3 linked regions of the Homo sapiens genome follow. The protein of the gene in region 2 purifies or fractionates together with the protein of the main gene of each other region. This does not show direct contact. Each region holds a gene or a part of one and is shown on either strand. Other genes may lie near its edges.

Region 1 (7,109 bases), on a different chromosome or scaffold from region 2:
CCCTAATGTGGGACTCTGTCTCCATCTATTCATCCTAGACTATGCAAAGCTTTTCATGGGGCTGGACATAAACTCACTACCTAAATCATAGGACTAAAAGAGTCTCAGGGTAAAACACAAGTACATGTTTAGACAATAGAAATATTAAATTATTCCCTAAAATGAAATAAGTGGTCAAGAAGAAGTTTCTAGGTTGGAACTTAAATGTCGTTGTTTGCGTTTATTTATAGCTGTACAACATGTTCTGGTTATTTTTGGAGGTTTGGGGCCAGGCTAAATGGGTCTGCCCAGGACTCTGTTAACTTTCCTTCCCTAACTCCTGAGTCACATGTTGGTAGCTGGTACTGCTACTCAGCATACCAGGGCTAGCAGATTAGGGTGGCCTCAATAGTCTTGGATTTTAGAATTAGGACAAGGAAATTCTAGCTAACTGCCATATAAATGCTTAATAATAAAAAGTCAAATAGATATGAATTTACCAGACAAAACAGATGACAACTAATTCACCATTTTGAATAACAAATCCAACAATTCTAGAATACAGAAGAAAGGACAAGAAAGCAAACTATATTAAGCAGCAGCGTACTGCCATGTTAAGTCCCATGATAATGGTTTTGTTTTGATCCTACTCTCTGCTGCTTCATAGCTGACTCTCAGACCACACCTCTTGATAATTCTCCATGATTACTGATTGTTTATTCACTGCTTGGATGGAGAGCCAAACACCAGAAAGGCCTCTGTTTAGTTTCTTCTCTGAGTCTTTAAAATGGCCAGTTTATTTTTATAGACTAGTCTGAAGTACTTTTCATATTAAGCAACATCACCCTTCTGAAGTATTTTTAGCATTCAGAAACTCCCTCCCCCAGCTTTTGGGTCAGCCTTTGCCCACATTTCCCATAACTCCATGAACCATGGTCATTTAATGGGCCACTTTCTTCATTTCTTTTGTTTTTCTCCTTTTTCTCCCAAGTTGGGCTCTGCAGCTCTGTCCCAGCTTTGCCTTTGTTTCTCAGCTTTGGTTTTCTCTGTTGACTAATTTGAGCTGATCCAGGGTCACAGAAAGTCTAGTGGGGACGTTACTGATGCTGCTGGTTTCTGACAAGCTCCAGAACTGGGTGAAAACTTTTGCAAATAAGTCTTTGGAGGGTCAGATTCATACAAATTCAACAAGTCAACCAAACTGGATTTCTTTATAATGAGATTTTATACATGTACTTATTTCAATTCCAAATACTTATGTGATGTTGTTTACACCAATTCTGGACAGAGACCTCTCCAATGTCATGGTATCCTCTAAGTGCAAATACAATAAGTTCAGAAGATAGGATGATTTATCTCCTGAACTAGTCTGTGAGTCCTAAAAGGGTGGCAGCAGTTTTTTAATACTATTTTGTATAGCACTAGCAATGTGCCTTGGGCAAGGCAGGCTCTTGATAGGCACTGGTTGGTTTAGGTTATTGATAACTCTCTGGAAATTGTAAGAGGGGAAATATTACAATGCCGAATTTAAATGTAGCACCCTTCTATATCTCTGGCAGAACAGAAAACTATGTCACCCCTTCTGAAGGTTAAAAAAACCCTAAACAATTATGCTTTTACTTTCTTATTGTCTCCTACAGATTGTTTTGTTACTGAGAAAATGCTTCCAAGCGGAAGATACTCACATGTCGCCACGCATGGTACTTGTGGTAGCTCCACTGTGAATGTACCCAGGTTTTCGGGCATGGATTTGCGCTAGAAAAGCCTTTTCAGAGGTTGGTGAGGGAACAAGATCCTCAAACTGAGTCCGTGCAAATTCAGAATCCACATTACTCTCTGTTTCACTCCCAACCTCTAGCAGATACAATTGAAGAAATAAAGAATGACTCGTTAGATTTTTTTATGACCTGCAAATAAAGGAGTAGGCTTCACAAATCAACCTGTGCTGTGTAAAATGTTAACCAGTTATCATATTTTAATCAAATACATTTTTATTGTTTCAAAATAAGAATTGATATTGACATGAATTACTATAAAATCATTTGGTATACAGCATTTTTAAAATCTCAGAAATGTTATGAGGAATTTTTGCCATCTTAGTAACTGACTTAACTCTTTAAGACTTCTACTTTTTCCTTTCTGTAAGAGACTTAACTAAAATTGTTACTTTTGCTTAATATTACACTAATTTAAGAACTATGAGTTAAAACCTAATCCTAACCATAAAATATTCACCTAAAATGCTTAAAATATGAACTTAAAATATTAAGTGAACCCTATCACTTAATACTTTAAAGAATTATGAGTATAAACTAACAGTACTTAAGACTTCTACACCAAGAATAACTTTGTACTCATCATTTGCTAGGGCAGTGGTTACCTGCCATTAATCATGATGTATTAACTACTATCTTTTTATTCCGTTTGGTAATCTTAATCTAAATTAGCAGCAACAATTTTCAATTGAGAGGCTTTAAGAAAGCGAAGTCCAGGATTTTTTTAAAACTGAAGTTTTATTTCTTATAGTTGCAATCTCAGCTGTAAGACCATAGTCTTGCCAGACAAATCTCTTGGTAGGTCGGCCTTAAGGAATAGATGGAGATGTATTAGTGACTGGTAAGATATTTATTTGCATATTCATACTGCTAAAGTTTTGAACACTCTTTGTAGTATTAAAAGGATAAAAAGTCTCCTTAAATTTTATGCTATTTATTTCTGGGCAGATCTATCTTCAGAGACATTGCAAAGGTAAATTTCAGTTTGAAATTCAAATTTAAATGATCAGGCATTCCAAATTAATGAAACCTAAATAGATAAGGGCTGGGAATCCCAGCACTTCGGGAGGCTGAAGCAGGAGGACTGTTTGAGCCCAGGAGTTCAAGACCAGCCTGGGGAAAAAAGGCAAGACCCCATCTCAAAAAAAGATAAATAATACACTTGACCCTATAAAATAACCTTAGCATCATGTTGTTTTAGGTCACCATAGATGTTAACAGTGGCTGTCTTTGGATTCCAGAATTATAGGTCAGTTTGAATATTTTTCGTTGTTCTTCTCTGCCTTTTTCAAACTTTCTACATTGAGTATGTGTTAATAGTCTTTTAATAAGCAAAATATAAACATTACTTAAAAAATCTGAATAGGCCAGGCATAGTGGCTCACACACTTTGGGAGGCCGAGGCAGGAGGATCACTTGAGGCCAGGAGTTTGAGACCAGCCTAGGCAACATAGCAAAGACTCTGTCTCTATGAAAACAACAACAAAAAATTAGCCAGGCGTGCTGGCATGTGCCTGTAGTCTCAGCTACTAGGGAGGCTGAGGTAGGGGGATCACTTGAGCCCAAGTGTTTGACATACCAGTGAGCTATGATGGTGCCACTGTACTTCAGCCGGGCAACACAGAGACACCCTGTCTCAAAAAACCAAAAACAAACAAACAAAAAAAAAACCCCTCAAATCTGAATAGACCAACAAAATATCACATAGAGCTTTAAAGAATCTTTTGATATTAGACAATAAGCAGATCTCTAAGAGAGACCCCTAGCACTTATGGATCCCTCCATGATGAGCAGACAAATGAGAGGGAATCAGGAACTCACCAGAATTCAGCTCTTTCACAAGAGAGGACATAGTGTTAGTGATGGAATCTGCAGCCACTAGCAAGTCATTCCTTAAGTTTCTTCTTGAACCTTCAGGGAAGAAGAAATAATTTAAAAAACCAAAGCTTCCTTCTATCCTAAATTTTTATGTTGTTTATTTATCCTTCCCATTAATAACCTAAAGCAAGAAAACTTCTAAGACTTCTCCTTTTCAGAAGTGCTTTAGTTCATTTCCTGAAACAAGAACAACAACAACAACAAAACACTGCTTAGGGCAGTGGGTCCTGCAGTAAGAAGACATGGCTAATGATGGAGTTTCATATATTATTTGTCCATATGGGGACAATTTTGAAGGTGAAAGAGAGCAGTATGAATAAGGCTGGCTGACCTGGCAAAACTGGGATGGTTCCAGGTAAACCAGTGCGTGTGGTCACCCTTCTTAAGAATAATCCACACAGATGAAAAATCAGGTTTTCCAGGAGAGCTGCGCCTTCCTAGCTGCTATTATTTTTCTTGCCCTTACCTGGTGGCTGAGCCCTTTAGATTCTGGTCTCTACTAGGACATGCGCTGTCTCCTATCAGGGCTCTTGGAGCTCTTCCTGCCAGTGTAAGTACCACTTGGGAATGGGAAACCCACATGCACTGAATGCCCCCAGAGCGTGAGAAAGGGGTGAGGATTCTTGTTTCTTCTGCCAAGACATGGGCAGATGCATGTCTGGTACTATAAATTGGAACTTAGACTATGTTTCTTTATGGCAGAGAAAGATTATTATTTTGTTTCAGGCACACTAAGGGTTAATGGAATTTCATTCCGTCATTTTTCAGAAAGTAATACTAACTAAATAAAATAATAAATGTTTAAATTAAAAAAATCAGAGTAGTTAAGTAAAAACATTAATTATAATGGAAATCACAAATTGATTTAAAATATAGTACATTTCTTTAAAATATGATTAAGAGAAGGGATATTTTCTTTCTAAAAATTAAAAGTTATTTTGTGAATTACATTTTTAAAAACTCTTGAGTTATATTCAGTGCCTAGAAGAAAAAGTTCTAATATAGATCCTTCCTTTTCCCTCAGAGTAGAGAGTTCATCATTCTCTCTCATTGAAGTGTGTTAAGATTTTATCACCCCTCTACATGGACGAGAGTACCTTTTTCCTCGCACTTTTGCTATCCCTGGATATTATGATGTTTCAAAACATTTTTTTAATCTTCTAGGCAAAAAGTGATACTTATTAAAATTTATATTTCTGTAATTAGAGGTTGAACATCTTTTCATATATTTATTGGCAATTTCTCTTTGTTCTTCTGTCTATTCGTATATTTCACCTGTTTTTGTTTTGGTGGTGTCTATTCTTTCTGATCTCTACATGATTTTTGTATAACTGAAATTATGAAACTTGATTGACACATATACTGGAAATGGTTTCCTCAAGACTGTTTTCTGTCTTTTAACTTTGTTTATGATCTCTTTTGCCTTAAAACCCATATTCAAACATGTCTCTCTTTTCCTTAGATCTCTATGTGAAGACTTCGAAGAATGTTAATGATATATTGCTAATTTAAAGAAAATGCAAATTGCAGACCCCAAAATGCAATGCATGATCCTATTTGTGTGAAAAAAAGAGTATGTGTCTATAATCACATCCTTAAACATATCTATTTACACAAAAGCAAAACTTTGGGAAGGATCAAACTGTTAATAGTGGTTACTTCTGGGAATGAAAGCTGCCGGTGAAGGTCTACAGAATGATTTTTTTATTATTATTCTCTATAAATTTAAAAAGTGATAGTAAGAAGAGGTTTTAAAAAGTGTTAAAAATATTTCTAAATTAATAAAGTTACTCTCCCTGTCATGGGAAAGTGCTGGCTGGCATCCCCATCCCTCTTTGTACTCCTCTAACTGCAGAGGCTTAACCCTGTAGCCCTGCCTTACAGAGGCAATGATTCAACTCTTCGGGGCATCAGAACAGGGAATCTGTCAAATGACTAAATGTCCTTCTTGGTTACCTCATTGCTAAAGAGCTGTGATTACTTATCTCAGTCTTGACTTTAATATAAAGAAAAGACAATATGAGATAAGAAAATCTCTAAGAATTAAAAAAAATAGATTACATTTATGAAGTTTTCTGGGGGTATTGGTGAAAAGATTTCCTGTCTTTTGATGAACAAAGACTTACTAAAAAATAAGGCAGGGCAACAAAAGCCAAAGGAAGGTAAAATCGTGAAGTGAGAACAAATTGGTGTAGGGAGTTCCCAAAATGGCTGGCAGGCCAGGCTCTGACACCAGCCATGAAAGACCCTACAATAGTCACATGTGGTTCTGACAACTCTTGACCACTCAATAGACCTTGGTGACCTATTTGCCACATAAAAGCAGACCACAACAAAAAATAAAGCCACTTACTTTGTGCAAATGCCTCTTGTACATCTCCCCCTACTCCTGTGAGGGAGTCCTGCGGCGTGTGCGTCGGGGTGGAGCAGGCTGACGCTGACCGGATGGGCATGGGAATTGGCCTGCTGATGGTGTGGCTGGGGGAGGAGCGGGGAGAGCCTGCCCCCTGAGTCTGGAGAGACAATGCAGGTCATTAATTTGCTTTCCCAAGAAAATGTCATATGTCATCCCCAATGCCTCAGTTGATTGTTGAAAACAGTGACAATGAAATTTCAAAGCAGGAGGAAATCCTAGGTAATTGTGTTGGTAATCCTAAAGCTAATTTGCAGGTGCAGATAATTTAGGACCTTATTGTATGTAATCTGAAGTTTGGGTTAAATATTGAAAGCTAAAACTATTAGTACAGCATTGCTCTACAGTATATGGGACATGTGCCCATAAAATGAAGGTACTGTTAAATGCAGATAATTACAAGGTGTGGATACTTTCTCCTTGAAGGAAGGTCTCCGAGGACTAAGAAGACATTAAGGAGAAAGTTTAAAATACAAACTAGAAGACTATTTGCAATGGATGCTTTCTGAATTTTCAACCTGACTGTACTAGCATTATCTTTAGAGGATAAGAGTTTAAATCATGTCATACAATATTGTGCATATTAAGTCTCAAATTAAGAATCAAATGAAGTGTAAATTGTTTTATCCCTATTTTATAGTAAAAGCTGATTTTGTCAAATTAGTAACTCAGGGATTCCAATGGGGAAGAAGAAGAAGAAGAAACCTTGTTTTCTAATTTTTTGGTATTATTTCCTGCAGGAAATGTCCTTCTCTTCTCCTATGAAAAAGCAGTATTCTAGCAGGACAATAAGAATAGTAGGATTTAAAGACAAGTAAAGAAAAAAGTAGAAAACAACTGAAGGAACTTATCTTTGCACTACAGTTTTTGGCATGAAACTATTCTGAGACTGTCACACTTTGAATCTTAAGGATTTGTCTCTAAATGAGGTGCCTTGGAAATATTCTCCCTGTTTTAATAATTAGTTGACAAAAGAAGTCAGCCACATGCGTAAGAAAATGCAAGGAGACCCTTGAGTGCATACACAACAGATTAGGTGTTCACATCAATTCCATCCCAGTCTG
Region 2 (7,109 bases):
GCATGGCCAACTCCCCCATCTCCTAAAGTCTTTGTTCAAACATCTTATTAATGGCTTACCCTAACTACCATATTTAAAATTTACAAACTGACACCCTGGGCAGCATTTCTGACCCCTTCCCTTGCTGTGTTTCATTTTCCCATTACACTTAACATCTTCCAATATACTGTATAATTTACTTATTTTATTTTGTAATTATCATACTGTACAATTGAATTTTTTCCCCTTAAGGTATACAGTTCTATGAATCTGGACACATACATAAATTCTTGTAACTGTCACCACAATCAGGATACAGGACCATTCCATGGTTTCAGAAAACTCTGTTGTGCTATCCCTTTATAATCATATCCCTTCTCACCCCTAACCCTTAGAAACCACTGAATTTATTTTTATTTATTTATTTATTTATTTATTTAGTCAAGGCAGGGTCTCGCTCTGTTGCCCAGGCTGGAGTGCAGTGGCGCAATCTCAGCTCACTGCAACCTCTGCCTCCTGGGTTCAAGCCTCCTGCCTCAGCCTCCTGAGTAGCTGGGCTTACAGGCGTGCACCACTATGCCTGGCTAATTTTTGTTTTTTTAGCAGAGGTGGGGTTTCACCATGTTGGCCAGGCTGGTCTTGAACTCCTAACCTCAAGTGATCTGCTCACTTTAGCCTCTCAAAGTGCTGGGATTACAGGCATGAGCCACGACGCCTGGCTAGAAACCACTGAATTTTTCATCATATATTTTTTTCTTTTCAATAATGGGGTCATACAACTTTTGAGACTGGTATAATGCCTTTCAGATTCATCCAAGTTACTGAGTTATAAATAGTTTGTTCCTTTTTATTTCTGAATAGTGTTCTATTCTATAGCTGTATCACAGTTTATCCATTCACTTCCATTGAAGGAAATTTGGGTTGTTTCCAGCTGTGGTACTTACGAATAGAGCTGCTAAGAACATTAGTGTACAGGCTTTTGTGTGAATGTAAGTTTTCATTTCTCTAGAATTTCATTAAATTATTAATTACATTATTATTTTTTGCATATTTTATTCACTGGCTAATAATTCTACATGCCTAAAACAGTTCCTGGTATATAGTAGGAGCTCAATAAATTAGTGAATTTGCTATGTTATTTTAGAATGAAGAGGAAGAGTGAAAGAGTCACTCTGAACTCATTCAAGGTTCATGTCACCAGACTCTAGACTGCAGTCTACTCAAACCCCAAATGGCCAGGAGACTTGAGCTGAAAGACACCTGCAAGTTGAGAATGTAAAAGGCTTTTTACTCAAAGCAAAGCAATTCCTTCCTCGTGTTTTTGGTGGTCATTTATCAGCCTCCTGACTTGAGAGAAGAGCTTGGGATGAGGTTGGAGAGAATCCTCCTGAGAGAATACTTTAACAGTGACTGTCAACATAACTCATTCCTGTGCAAAATGCACAGCCAGATATTCCACTCTGAGAATAATCCAGGAACAAACTTGCTTGCAAAAGCAGGGGAAATAATGTTGTGTGACTAACTTAGTTTCACTTAAACTCATAGTAAAGATCACCAGTTGGGGCATGGAAAAGGTAAGAGTTAGAGATAAAAAGGAACATAACGATTATATGAGAAGTTGATGTTTATAAAAGAGGTTGATCCATTTATCCAAATATGTGTGTTTGCAGCCGTAGGCTGTGTCTGCCCTATTATGTATCCTTTTTGGATAAGGTTTTTGTTTCGTTTCGTTTTGTTTATTTGTTTGTTTGTTTGAGATGGAGTTTTGCTCTTGTTGTCCAGGCTGGAGTGCAATAGCATGACCTTGGCTCACTGTAACCTCTGCCTCCCGGGTTCAAGCAGTTCTCCTGCCTCAGCCTCCTAAGTAGCTGGGATTACAGGTGCCCGCCACCACACCTGGCTAATTTTGTATTTTTAGTAGAGATGGACTTTCGCCATGTTGGCCAGGCTGGTCTTGAACTCCTGACCTCAAGTGATCCACTCGCCTTGGCCTCCCAAAGTGCTGGGATTACAGGTATGAGCCACCGTGCCCGGCCTGGATAAGCTTTTTTTTTTTTTTTTTTTTTTTTTTGTGATGGAGCCTCACTTTCTAGCCCAGGCTGGAGTGCAGTGGCACAATCTCAGCTCACTGCAACCTCTGCCACCTGGGTTCAAGCAATTCTCCTGCCTCAGCCTCCCCAGTAGCTGGGATTACAGGTGCCTGCCACCGCACCCGGCAAATTTTTATATTTTTTAGTAGAGATGGGGTTTCACCATCTTGGCCAGACTGGTCTTGAACTCCTGACCTCGTGATCCACCCACCTCGGCCTCCCAAAGTGCTGGGATTACAGGTGTGAGCCACCATGCTCAGCACCAGCCTAGATAAGCTTTAAAAAGCCAGGGTGGGCGTGGTGGCTCAAGCCTGTAATCCCAGCACTTTGGGAGACTCCGAGGTGGGCAGATCACTTGAGGTCAGGAGTTGGCAAGCAGTCTGGCCAACATGGTGAAACCCCGTCTCTACTAAAAAAAAAAAAGCCACTTAACAGGTGGGGTGCAGTGGCTCATACCTATAATCCCAGCCCTTTGGGAGGCCAAGGCGGGTGGATTGTTTGAGCTCACCAATTAGAGACCAGCCTGGGCAAATGGCAAAACCCTGTCTCTACTAAAAGTACAAAAATTAGGTGGGTATGGTGGTGTGCACCTGTAGTCTCAGCCACTCAGGAGGCTAAGATGGGAGGATGGTTTGAGCCCAGGAGGCGGAGGTTGCAGTGAGCTGAGATCATGCCACTGCACTTCAACCTGGGTGATAGAGCCAGACCTTGTCTCAAAAAAAAAAAAAAAAAAAAAAAAGAAGCCACTTGCATTCAGTTTAAAATCAGATGCTGCCTCATGCCCCAAACATGGAACTCTTCATAACCTTATTCATTAGAGCTTAGAATTCAGTAAGAATCAGTTGGATTTTGGATCCTATCCAGTGCATTATAGTTTTTGAAGCCTCAAGATTTCCGTTTACATGTCTTTCATGTTTAAAGTTTGAGCAACAGGCTGGGTGGTGGCTCATGCTTGTAATCCCAACGCTTTGAGAGGCTAAGGCGGGAGGGTTGCTTGAAGCCAGGAGTTTGAGATCAGCCTGGGCAAAATAGCAAGACCTTGTCTCTACAAAAAATTAAAAAGTTAGCCAGATGTGTCGGTGTGTGCCTATAGTTGCAGCTACTCAGGAGGCTGAGGCAGGATCACTTGAACCCAAGAATTTGAGGTTACAGTGAGCTATGATTGTGCCACTGCCCTGCAACCTGAGGGACAGAGTGAGACCCTGTCTCAAAAATAAAATTAAGATAGAGTTTGAACAAGGTCTCAGAATAAGTTTTCTTCATTTCTTAAATACGTTTTTAAAATAAATACTATGGACTTAACAAAAATTTTAAATATACAGAACAACATAAAGAAAAAAATGCAATCCTACACCTGTATATAAGCACTATTGATATTTTGATTAAGTTCCTTCCAGACATCTTTACAGGTACATGTGTGCAGTACATGTATGTGTTTTTGTCACTCTAAAGAAGAGAAGGGATCACAGTAATGCTTTTGGGGTGGGAGGAAGCCCACCTTCACGTTCAGTAAAAGGGATACGTGAGGCCGGGCATAGTGGCTCAAGCCTGTTATCCCAGCACTTTGGGAGGCCAAGGCGGGTGGATCACGAGGTCTGGAGATCGAGACCATCCTGGCTAGCACGGTGAAACCCCGTCTCTACTAAAAATACAAAAAATTAGCCGGGCGTGGTGGCGGGCGCCTGTAGTCCCAGTTACTGGGGAGGCTAAGGCAGGAGAATGGCGTGAACCCAGGAGGCAGAGTTTGCAGTGAGCTGAGATTGTGCCACTGCACTCCAGCCTGGGCGACAGAGTGAGACTGCATCTTAAAAAAAAAAAAAAAAAAAAAGGGATACATGAATGGAAGAAAGAAAATTAGCTTCAGCATCTGAACACTCAAAACAGTTTGTAAACATCAGTGTTTAATTAAATTATTTTGAGGATTATCTTCAACTATCAGGAAAAATGAAATGATTCTGAAATATGTTGTGGATTCTGAGTTGAACTGAAAGCTCCATGTGGGGGTGTAAAGGCTCTGCTTATCCAGCCACGTGTCCAGGTTAAGGCCTTAACATAGGACTGAAACAGAAGACTGTTAACTTTTTGCCATTCCCAAACATAGAAACAGATGTCCATCCACAGCTCTTCAGCCATTCTGGATGGCTAATTAGATGGGGGTATGGACTGCATTGCCATCAACTCAGATAAAATTCATTGCTCTTTTAATAAGGCAATACATAAATTGTATGTGTATGTCTGTTTTTGTTTTAGGATGTGTGTAGTAATCAGTTCAGTGATGCTACTGTGTGATTGAATGAACTGAGTAGATCGTTAAGGGTTCTTTTCTAACCACTATATTATTCAAGAATTCATTTAGAATGTCTTTAATTTCCTCCAGTTGGTAGCCCAATAGTGTACTGCCTTAAATGTTCAAAAAGCATGCCTCTGCCATTTGCAGTAACTGGAAACCTTAGGAATTTCTGCCAAAGTCCTTCAAAGCATAAAGCTGAAGTATGTATTGAAATGCTTGAGTCAGCTGCTCAAGGGTTATACTGACTGCACTCCTGCTGATTTTTCTAGGGTAAAAAAATCTCCTTGGTGACCTGAGGCAGCTACCCAGAAGCACGTGTATTATAACTATGCACAAAAAGCACAGAGATATACTACATCTAAATTCTAGCATTGGAATTGTTATATTTTTTATTATTATACTTAATTTCAGTAAATCTTTTTTAATAACGTATAAGAAAATAACTTTAACTCTTCTACTGATTACCATTAAAATTTTTTAACTCTTCTCTAACTTTCTAATTTAGGGAAGGAAAAAGAAAGGTACCTACTGTATTTATTGAATGTTTAGTATGTGCCTGAAATTTTTATTTGCTTAGTGTTACTCCCATTTTGTAGATGAGGACCTCAGAACAGTTAAGTGCGGTCACATAGCTTTGAATAGCAAGCACAGTTAGGATTTGAACAAGGTCTTCTTGATTCCAAAGGCATCTCTATGACCACATCATGCTGTAGAATGAGCTATCAACTATTAGGCCTATAAAAGACTATCAACCTTATTAAATAAAAAAACTAAGGTGCAGCACGGTAAGCATAATGTACCACCATATGTATGATCAGATATACACGCATGTGTATGTGTTTATTTTCATACATGCTTAGCATACCAGGCATCTCTTTGAATGGTTGCCTCTAGGAATGGAGACAGGGTAGCTAGAAATCTGGACTTTTATTATAAAACCTTTTATACCTCTTGAGTTTTGTTTTATGTGCATGTATTACCTATTCACAGGAGAAACTGTGTGTACCACTGTGCCCAGCCAGTTTGTCTAGTTTTTGAAACAAGAACACCATGCCTCGAGTGACAGTAATTGTAGTCATGACTGAAGTAAAACAAGTATTTTATGAGTTTTAAATTTGAACTTAAAAAAGCTTCCTATCTACTAAAAGCTTGATTTTCATTTGGGGCCACATTAATGGAAATAGAGTATTTTGAACAAGCAAGGGGGATCAGTTGAGTTGGCTTTGTGCTTATTAGATCATACCTTATCTTGAATATACTTTATTTTTGCACTTGATTTTAAGAACTGTAATGGCCTGTTTACATAGCTGTCTCCCCTGCAAGGCTGGGCATTCCTTGAGGGATAGAATCCATGGCTCATTTGCCCTTGTGTCTTTACTGGCTAGCCTAATTCCCAACACTTGGTAGGTAGCTAATAAAAGTTGATTGAGTTGAATGGAAATAGAAATACTTAGCTTAGTATGGGGAGGAGAGAGAAGAGAAAAATCTGTCTTCAGATAATTACAGAGTTCTCATGTAGAAGAGAGATTAAGTTTGTTCTATATGGCTTGAGAAGACAGGGAACCAGTGGGTAGAAGTATGGAGAAGTTTCTAAAGGTTGAATCATCTAAAGCCTAGATGGGTCTGTCTTAGAATCTATCTCCAGGGGATTCATGGCTCTTTAACTTACTTTTTTCCCCCATTTTTTGTTTGTTTGTTTGTTTGTTTGTTTTTGAGGCAGAGTCTTGCTCTGTCGCCCAGGCTGGAGTGCAGTGGCACAATCTCACTGCAGCCACCGCCTCCCGGGTTCAAGCAATTCTCCTGCCTCAGCTTCCTGAGTAGTTGGGACTACAGGCGCATGCCACCACGCTCACCTAATTTTTTGTATTTTTGGTAGAGATGGGGTTTCACTACGTTGACCAGGCTGGCCTTGAACTCCTGACCTCAAGTGATCCACCCGCCTCGGCCTCCCAAAGTGCTGGGATTACAGGAGTGAGCCACCGCGCCCAGCTCTTTCCTCCACTTTGTTATAGATATAGCATGTATGTGAATACTTTAGTTATCATTTATTATAGGAAGCAAAATTACTAACCTTCTTCTTTGATTTTTTTGTTCATAGTCAAGTTCATCCGAGAAGTAACACCATATATCAAGAAGCCATCATTAGTATCAGATCTGCCGTGGGAAGGTGCAGCCCCCCAGTCACCAAGCTTTAGTGGCAGTGAGGACTCTGGTTCGCCAAAACACCAGAACAGCACCAAGGACAGGAAGATCATCCCTCTCAAAATGTGCTTTGCTGCTAGAAACCTAAGCATGCCGGATCTGGAAAACAGGTGAGGTGTACCTAACAAGAACATCATACCTACAGCTTTACAAACTTAAGGACATGTTGCAGTATTATATGACTCTGTTAACTCAGTTATACAGAGGAAAACATCTGTCTGAGGTGAGAGATGCATTTTTGGGGTTCCACATTTTAAGTTATTCTACATATATACATGTATATGTGTAGAAAAAATTTTGAACAGACACACAAGAAACTGTTAATGGCTTTACCTCTAGGGTGTCAAATAAGACTAAAGGGGTGAAAGAAAGAGGGGGCATCTTTTCTTCCTTTTATGTCTTTCTGTAATGTTGTTATTACTTTTTTCACTATGAATATGTATTACTTTATAATTGAAAGAAGTCCATTCAGTATGATATTGGCTGTGGGTTTGTCATAGATAGCTCTTATTATTTTGAAATACATCCCATCAATACCTAATTTATTG
Region 3 (7,746 bases), on a different chromosome or scaffold from region 2:
GTAATTAGCACATATTCATAAGAGACAAATATATACAATGAGTTACTATACATATACAAAGTGATTTTAGCTGTATAAAGTGATATTGCAAAAAACTACAGCTAATGTTTCTTGCTGGGTAATTATTAGCATAAATATCAGGTTCTTAGAGGTCTTTAAGAGAATACTTTAGAGCTACCAAAATTAGCAGCAGTGATGTAATATCACCCTGAAATACCAGGAGCAGAGGTGCCCCAGAGTGCTTCACAGCTATGATCAGGAAACTTGACCTGCCCCATTGCTACAGCAACGGCATAAGGACTAGGAAGGTCCACTAGCTGGGGAGGTCTTGGAACCCTCCGAGCCAGAAAGAAGCATTCCAGCATGATTCCTCAGATGCAATGAGGAAGGTTTACAGAATTTTCACAGGGCAACAGAGATCAAGTGGTATGAAAAGGTAGGAGTTTTAAGCTCAAGTCTCAAAGATAACCTACCTTTACATTCTCAGTCAGAATTTGACCCAGAAAGAGGAAGTTTCTTCAGGAACAGACCGTACGTTGATGAAGTAGAAGTCATTTCAGTAAAAACGGAGTACAGAACTTGGTCATAATATCTTGCATTTTATAGATTTATTAAAGATTAGTTTCAAGTTCACATTCGCTATTCAGTTGTAAACCGAATGGATGGGAGGGGAGAAAATACAAGCTCTCCACACAGGTATGCTCCTCTCTTTTCTGAGAGAGAAGGCATGGGATTTTCAGCATAAATTCCATGTTATGTGAGTGCTGTTTGAGTTCTGAAGTTCCTATCAATATCTGTTCCTGCAAGTGATCTCTGTAAGACCACCTTACATGCTGGTCTTAGTTATTGTTAAAATTGCAAGGTTTCTTCACACCCTCTTTGATAAGAAGTGTTTAGCTGGCAGAGCTTTCCCTTGACTTCTGAGTCTAGTGTGGGTTGGCCCATGACAGTGGGAAGAAATCCAACATGTTACATGGAGACCTTGTATGTAAACAAACTCTGTAGCCTTTGAAAGTGGAACTGCTTTTTACAGTTAAAGGGCTGCTAAATGGCTTGCAGATGAGATCTTCTGGCTCACCTTGATCTTCACATGAACCCATTGTGACCTATCTGGATTTCCTAGGACCTGTAGTTTCCATTTGGGTTATATTAGTGCCTCAGGAATGTGTCACTACTGGTCAAGCAATACTCAGAAATTCAGGCTGTGAGGGGTTAGATTAGAGGAAAGTAATTTAGGTGAGCTATCCAGAGCTTTCAACCTCAGGGTTTATAGGAAAAAAAAACAAAATACAAAAACCCTTAGGACTTCTCATACTCTAGCCCTGACCTTGCAGTCTCCTCTGAGGGGCCTCCTAAGACCCTTAAAATAATATTACAATAGGACTTTGAGTGTGCATTTCACAGTGGAAATAGCCTCTGGCTAGCATTACTTCCAAATGCTAGTTCCAGCTAAAAACAAGTACTTTTTATTAGTTTCTTGTCTTTCAACATTCTGCCATCAAAATATATTCATTTTATTAACTTACCGATTATTGGGAACCTGCAAAAAAAAAAAAAAAAAAAAACACACATGCTGTCTGCAGCCACTGTTTGGTTATTTTTGATAGTTTAAGAGAATTATAAATCAAGTTGTTCTGTCTACTAGAGTCAGAAATTCTGTGCTAGAATGGGACTTCTAAAATTAGGTGGTCCTGTCACTTTCTAGAGAAAGACCCAAATTCATAGGTTTAAGTGGCTTGTCTGACATACACATACAGCCAGTTAGTAACAGAATTCAGAATAGAATAGAGTTCTTTTTTTTCTGTCAGTCCGTTGTTCTACTTCTCTTTCCTTTTCTTCATGGTTGAGCAGCTTTTGGCAAAATGTGTTCCATATAGCAGTAGTTCCAAGAGATGTTAATAGATGTAAGAAAAAAAGTGTGTGTGTGTTGGGGGTGGGGGATTGCATGGTCAATTAAAATGAAGGAATGCTGAGTTTGTTTCCTTACTGTAGGACTTCTAAGAGTTTTGAACATGCTATTACACATTGTGAATTTATAAAAGGGGACAAACACTGTTTGACCTTAGACTGCACTCCCCTTCTTTATTCCTCAGAGCATCTCAAAGGACTACAGGGTCCTTTGAGAAACATGGCCCTTGATCAAGTTTACAACTCTTTGAGAAGACATCCCTAATGGAAATACTGAATGGCAGATCTATTACTGTGGTACCATGTAGTGTGTAATAAATCTTGAAGTCCAGAAAGCAAGTATATTTGCTGTTTAGAGCTATACTTAAGGTATAGAGATTCTTTTCCACCTGTGGTGTGTAAAATCAGTATTGTGTTTAATTTTGCAGGTTTTTCAAGGATCAACTAATGTGCAAATACAGTGGTGATATATTGATATTACATTTTAATAATGCTTTTGTATGGCACTTTATAGTTTTCAGACACCTTTTGTAACAGCCCTGTGAGACAGACAATATTATCCTTATTGTACAGATGGGGGGGCTCTGGAGGCTCTGAAAAGTTTTTGGTGATATTCCCCTAAGTTTATACCACAAAATGATGGAGCCAGAATTTAGTTGCAGAACTTCTGACTCCAAGTCCAGAGTTCTTTACTAGACATCTGGTTTCTTACTAGCTTTTTGCTAGCTTTTTATTTTACAGTGAAAAGTATGGAAGCAAATCCTGATAATTTTGGCTTATTATCAAATATCATTTATTTTTTATTGCAGAGACCCAGCAGATGTAACTCTCATTGTAGCCATCCCAAAGAAAACCCTTCTTTGCCCTTTGCAGTGCCACTTATTTAGGTAACTGAAGTGTATTTCCAGTACAATTTGATTTTGAACTAAGATTTGATATAGAGTTGTAATTGCTTACATAACTCTTTGAAAATGTATCATCCCTGGGTTCTCAGGTGAAGGAGGCAATTCAAAAGTAAAAAAGAATATTCGAATACAATAAATACCCTCTGTTCTCACACAAATGCTGTTTCTTAGCTAACTTGCTTTGACAACCTACTGATGTAACTTCTTTATTAATGTGAAATATTTATATTTTGAAATAAAATTACTAGTGTTGAATGAATCATGTGGTAAACTTAATCTCCTGTGTGTTGAAAAACTTGATCTTTTGTGAAGCCAAAGTTTCATGAATCCATCCGTCTCTTAGGCCTTCTGTTATGCCATTTCCTCCGGCACCATTGTGTACACTGAATTCTTAGGAGATACTGTCAACTTCGTAAGGGAAGGTGTGTCCAGGAAGTGGACACTGGGCGCCTTAAAGAGGTCAAGGGCCCTCAGTGCACAGGGGAAGGTGGCCTTGTGATAGGTAAGGAAGTGGTGAGATGGTTGGCTGAGAAGAATTGGAAGAAAAAGTTGGATTGAGGACCTGTCCTTTTTGAATGAAGAAAAAGAAGCTGAAGCTTGGCTATCTTCAATACCAAAGACAGCTGTGCAGCACTGGTAGATTGATGAAGCTGAAGCTACAGGTTGAAGCACTGTGAAGCGCCTTTCAACGGTGCTTGGGAAAGAGCTTTCTTATGCCTCAGGTTGATGTACCCAGCTCATCAATCTGGTGTTATGGAAGAAGAAATGATCCAGGCCAAGGTGTCCGGGTGGACTGGCCAGCCTCAGATTCTTTTTTACTCTGACAGGTTCTCACTGGCAGATATGGTAGTTGACAAAACATTTTTTCATGCTTCTCAGTCTGTTGCTTAAGTCTGGAATTCCTTCACGGCGTGCATACTGCTGACAACCTCCTTTTGGCCTTGCTCCTGGAGACCTTAGAATAGGAGTCTTCAGCTCCCCGCCCCCATCGTGGGGCTCTGTGCGAGCTCAGAGTTGTGCTTACAGAACTGATTCTTACCCTTCCCCTCAAGTGAGTTGTCAGAAATACACACTTGGTGTTTTCATGCAATGAACAGTTATGAAGAAACTGCTCTGTGCCTGGCACTAGGAAAAAACTTCGAAAAATAGTTTTAAGAAGTAGTGTTGAACAGTAGATGAGGCTTTTTCATGTTTCTTTTAAATTTCTTTTGAATAAGTCTAAACAGTAGTGTGAAAGATATACTGACTTCCTGCCGAATACCCAGATACTCCATTAATGATTGCATTATCAAATGTTTCCCCTTCAATCCAGCTCAAAGTGTTTGTGAGAAATACATGGTGAAAGAATGAGCAGGGTGGAGTGGAAATTGGACCTTCCGGAGAAGCCCCAGGAAGACATTACCACTGGAATTCCCGTCCCAGGGGAAAGGCCCCTCCCAACAGACTTGATTCTGGTTTTGGTCTACCAGTTTCAACCCCAGCACAGCTTCCAGAAGTCTTTGCGGGAATTCAGAGCTGATTTAGGACGAGTCACCTATCGAGAGGACGGGAAGCTTTGCTGGGGACGCTTGTCTGTCCAAGTAAGAGGAGGCCATGTGGCTGTGTGACAGATGTGTTTTGTTTCTCCTCGCCACCCTGGCGAGAAGGTGCCTGGAACCCATGGAAGGGGTCTGAGAAGAGATAAGGGCGGGGCCATGTGGGGGCGGGACCCGGCTTAGGGGGTGGGGTTGCAGGGAGCCCACACCAGGCTGGACTGCGCGGGCGGGGCAGAGGCCGGGGGTGGGCGGGGACATACGGTGACGGGCGTCGGGGACGCAGGGTTGGCGGCGGAGCCCTGGGGGGGCGGGCCCCTGGGGGCGGGGTCTCGGTTGGCGCGAGTGTCCTGTCGCCGCCGCCTCGGGCGGGTGGGCTGACTGGCGGCAGGCTCGCCGCGGCGCGGAGTCCCGGCTGCGGGATAGACCGAGGGCCATGGCCGCCTCTCCCGGACCCGCCGGCGTTGGCGGCGCCGGAGCAGTCTACGGCTCCGGCTCTTCGGGCTTCGCCCTCGACTCGGGACTGGAGATCAAAACTCGCTCGGTGGAGCAGACGCTACTCCCGCTGGTTTCTCAGGTAAAGTGGCGCCTGGCGCGGCCCCTCTTCTCCTTCCCGCCGCGGCCCGCGATGGCGGCCGCCGCTCGCACGACCGGACGGGAGGCAGCCGCTGCCCCACTTTCCGCGCCGGCACTGCGGCGTTCTTGTCGGACCGCCTGTGTGGGGCTCCGGGACGGGCCTCGGCCCGGGCGGCGAGAGACTGGATAATCCAAACTCCGGCGGCAGGGTTGAGTGGACTCGGCAGCAGGGGAGGCTGCGGGGCGGGGGTGCCGGCCTGGGCCTTTGCCCCCAGTACCTGCCTCGGGTCTGCGGCTCCCGGGTGCCCCCGGCCGGGCGATGCCCCCTCCGCGGGGCGAGTGGTTGAGCCCAGCTCCCGAGGCAGAGAGGACCCCCGCGGGGCCCCTCGCTGGTACTTAGGGCCCTCCACGATAACCGACTTTGTCACCAGTTCGCAGCCTGGTCCCGAGCCCGGCTCCTCCGCCTGGGGTATTCCTCCCGGCCTCCCCGCCCAGCGTGCGCTCCCTGATCCTTTGTCCCTCCCCGCCGTAGGTCAGTTCGCTGGCCTCCCATTCATCCCGGCCACCCTACCCCTTCCCCTGAACCTGCTGCTGCTCACTTCTGCCCGCTTCTGTCCGGCCTCGTGGAAGAGTGACGTGGAGACTGTATGACAGTTAATCCAGATGCACACCGTTTTGCCAAGTCCCGTTTGGGATGTGTGCGTTACTGTATTTGCCAATCAGCTAACCGACGCCCTGAGTTTTAGGAAAGTTTTTGTTTCTCTGAGCTGGGTTATATGCAGCTTCAGGGCTAGAATTCCTCACTTAGGTCTGTGGTAAGATGCCAAGCACTGTGGGGAGTGAATTCTGTGCCTTCGGGAGCGCGTTGGCGATGTGTGACTCACATCTAGGTTGTAACCACTTCGTGACTCATACTAGGATTACCAAGATTTTAGAGGTAGAAGAAATCTTAAAGATTATCTGACTAAAAATTCTTTCTTTAGCATCCTTGACACCTGGCCACCAGTACCCTGCTTAAACATGTTCAGTGAAGGGGAGCCTGTAGCTGTTGCATAGAATTCTAAATGCTATTATCTCTTCTCCTGCCCAGCCCTGCGCATATTTGAAAACAGCAGTTACACATGTCCCTGGATTCCTGTTATGCTGGTTAAATAAACATCCCTATTTTCTTCACCTTCGCATGGCTAACGGAGCAGTGATGAATATATCTGACACTCTCCTTCCCTTTTCCTGTGTCTCATTGAGGCTCTGACCAGTGGGAAGGGGCACTGGGATCCCTCAGTAATGTCAGACCCTCCGCTCCTCGCCTATCTCCACTAGCACAACACAACCAAAACGAGAAACACTGGAGCAGTTTTAAGAGGCAGAGAGATAAGAGAGTGATGGAGTTCAAGTTGATAGTATTTTATCCATTTTTTAAATAACACCTATGTAATGCTTACTATGTGGTAGGCCAGGTTCTAAGCACTTTGTAAATATTAACTCATTAATTCTCATAACAATCATGTGAAGTTGGTATATATTCTCGTGGTATGGGAGAGGAAACTGAGGAATACTGAGGTTAAATAATTTGTTGTTAGGGCTTTCAATAAGTGCCAAACTGGGATTTGAATCCAGGTACCCTGGCTCCAGAAGGTTCTCTTTGCTACACTATGCTGTGTCCTCTCTAGAGATTAGAAGCAGTAATGAGATCTAGAGAAAAAGATGGTACATAGTGGAAAAACAAGCTAGAAAGTCATAATCTGGAGAAATGGCAACTTTTCACAGTATCCACTGCTAAAAATGTATCAGTCTTACAGCTCTGCATTGTGTAACTCTGGGGTAAAAGAAGCCAGAGAAGGGTAGGAGAGCAGAGGAAGAAAAGTATAAATCACTGCTGAGAGTTAGAGGTCAATGCCAAAGGGGAAGAATGCCTGCCTTTTTTTTTTTTTCTTTTTCCAGTTAAAGCCTTGTTCAGGGTCACAGCTGAGGTTTTGCATCCCACACATTGTGTATCTACAGCTACATCTCTACCACAACACCATAACTGATATTCCTCATAATTGACTGTCCTTAACAAGAAAAAGTTAAAATCAAGAAGTGTATTAAGCATGGCCAGAATACTCGGTTAACAAAGCAGGGAAGTACAATTTAGAATGATTTTAAAGTTTCAGTGTTAGGAGATTAAAACAGCAGTTCTCCAGAAAACTCATATGTCCACAAGTCTCATTTTCTGAGAATGCTGTATTATTACCCAACTCATGTTTCACCATCTCATCCACAAGGATATTTTAAGCATTTTAAGCAAGGATTTATTGTGTGCTTATTTGTTGCTGTTTTTTGAGGGGCTTATATTCTAGTTGGTAGATAGGTCATGTATAGAACAGCACATGCAAAGTGTCAAATGAACATCATCAATGGTACATACTCTAAAAGCTCAGAGAAGGCATGGATGAGTCAGCAGTGATGTCATGGAGGAGGCAGGGTTTTGAGGTAAACAAGTAGGACTGGCACTATACGGTTTAAAGTAGACAGTTTCTATTCTGGTATCATCTAGCTTCTTCTGACTCTCCAAGTGAAAAGTCCTGGGTTACTGGCCTTATTCTAAGAATGCAAGATTTTATCAATATTAGAAAAATGTGTATAGTTTTTTTTGCATTCACAGATTATAAAAGATGTATTTTCCTAACAATGATGCAGAAAAAGCATTCAACTAAATTCAGCTTCTAATAATGATAAGAAGCACTTAGGGAACTAGTGTTAGGAAAAAGTGTCCTTAACCTGATAGAGTATCTACAGAAAACTTTTACTTAACATCATAGCAACAGTCAAATTTAAAATAAACA

What was found.
Region 1: the proteins of SNTB2 (region 2) and DTNA purify together in Homo sapiens (affinity purification with mass spectrometry; 2 studies listed by BioGRID and IntAct, with this or other methods). This does not show direct contact.
Region 3: the proteins of SNTB2 (region 2) and CTNNAL1 purify together in Homo sapiens (affinity purification with mass spectrometry; 2 studies listed by BioGRID and IntAct, with this or other methods). This does not show direct contact.

The regions. Positions count from the first base shown.
Region 1 is NC_000018.10:34,874,275-34,881,383, reverse strand, and holds part of DTNA (dystrobrevin alpha), read right to left. Parts: intron 6,146-7,109; coding exon 5,986-6,145; intron 3,666-5,985; coding exon 3,576-3,665; intron 1,834-3,575; coding exon 1,665-1,833; intron 1-1,664. UniProt on the Homo sapiens protein: May be involved in the formation and stability of synapses as well as being involved in the clustering of nicotinic acetylcholine receptors.
Region 2 is NC_000016.10:69,239,145-69,246,253, forward strand, and holds part of SNTB2 (beta-2-syntrophin), read left to right. Parts: intron 1-6,457; coding exon 6,458-6,671; intron 6,672-7,109. UniProt on the Homo sapiens protein: Adapter protein that binds to and probably organizes the subcellular localization of a variety of membrane proteins. May link various receptors to the actin cytoskeleton and the dystrophin glycoprotein complex.
Region 3 is NC_000009.12:109,010,478-109,018,223, reverse strand, and holds the start of CTNNAL1 (alpha-catulin), read left to right. Parts: upstream 1-4,724; 5' UTR 4,725-4,781; coding exon 4,782-4,922; intron 4,923-7,746. UniProt on the Homo sapiens protein: May modulate the Rho pathway signaling by providing a scaffold for the Lbc Rho guanine nucleotide exchange factor (ARHGEF1).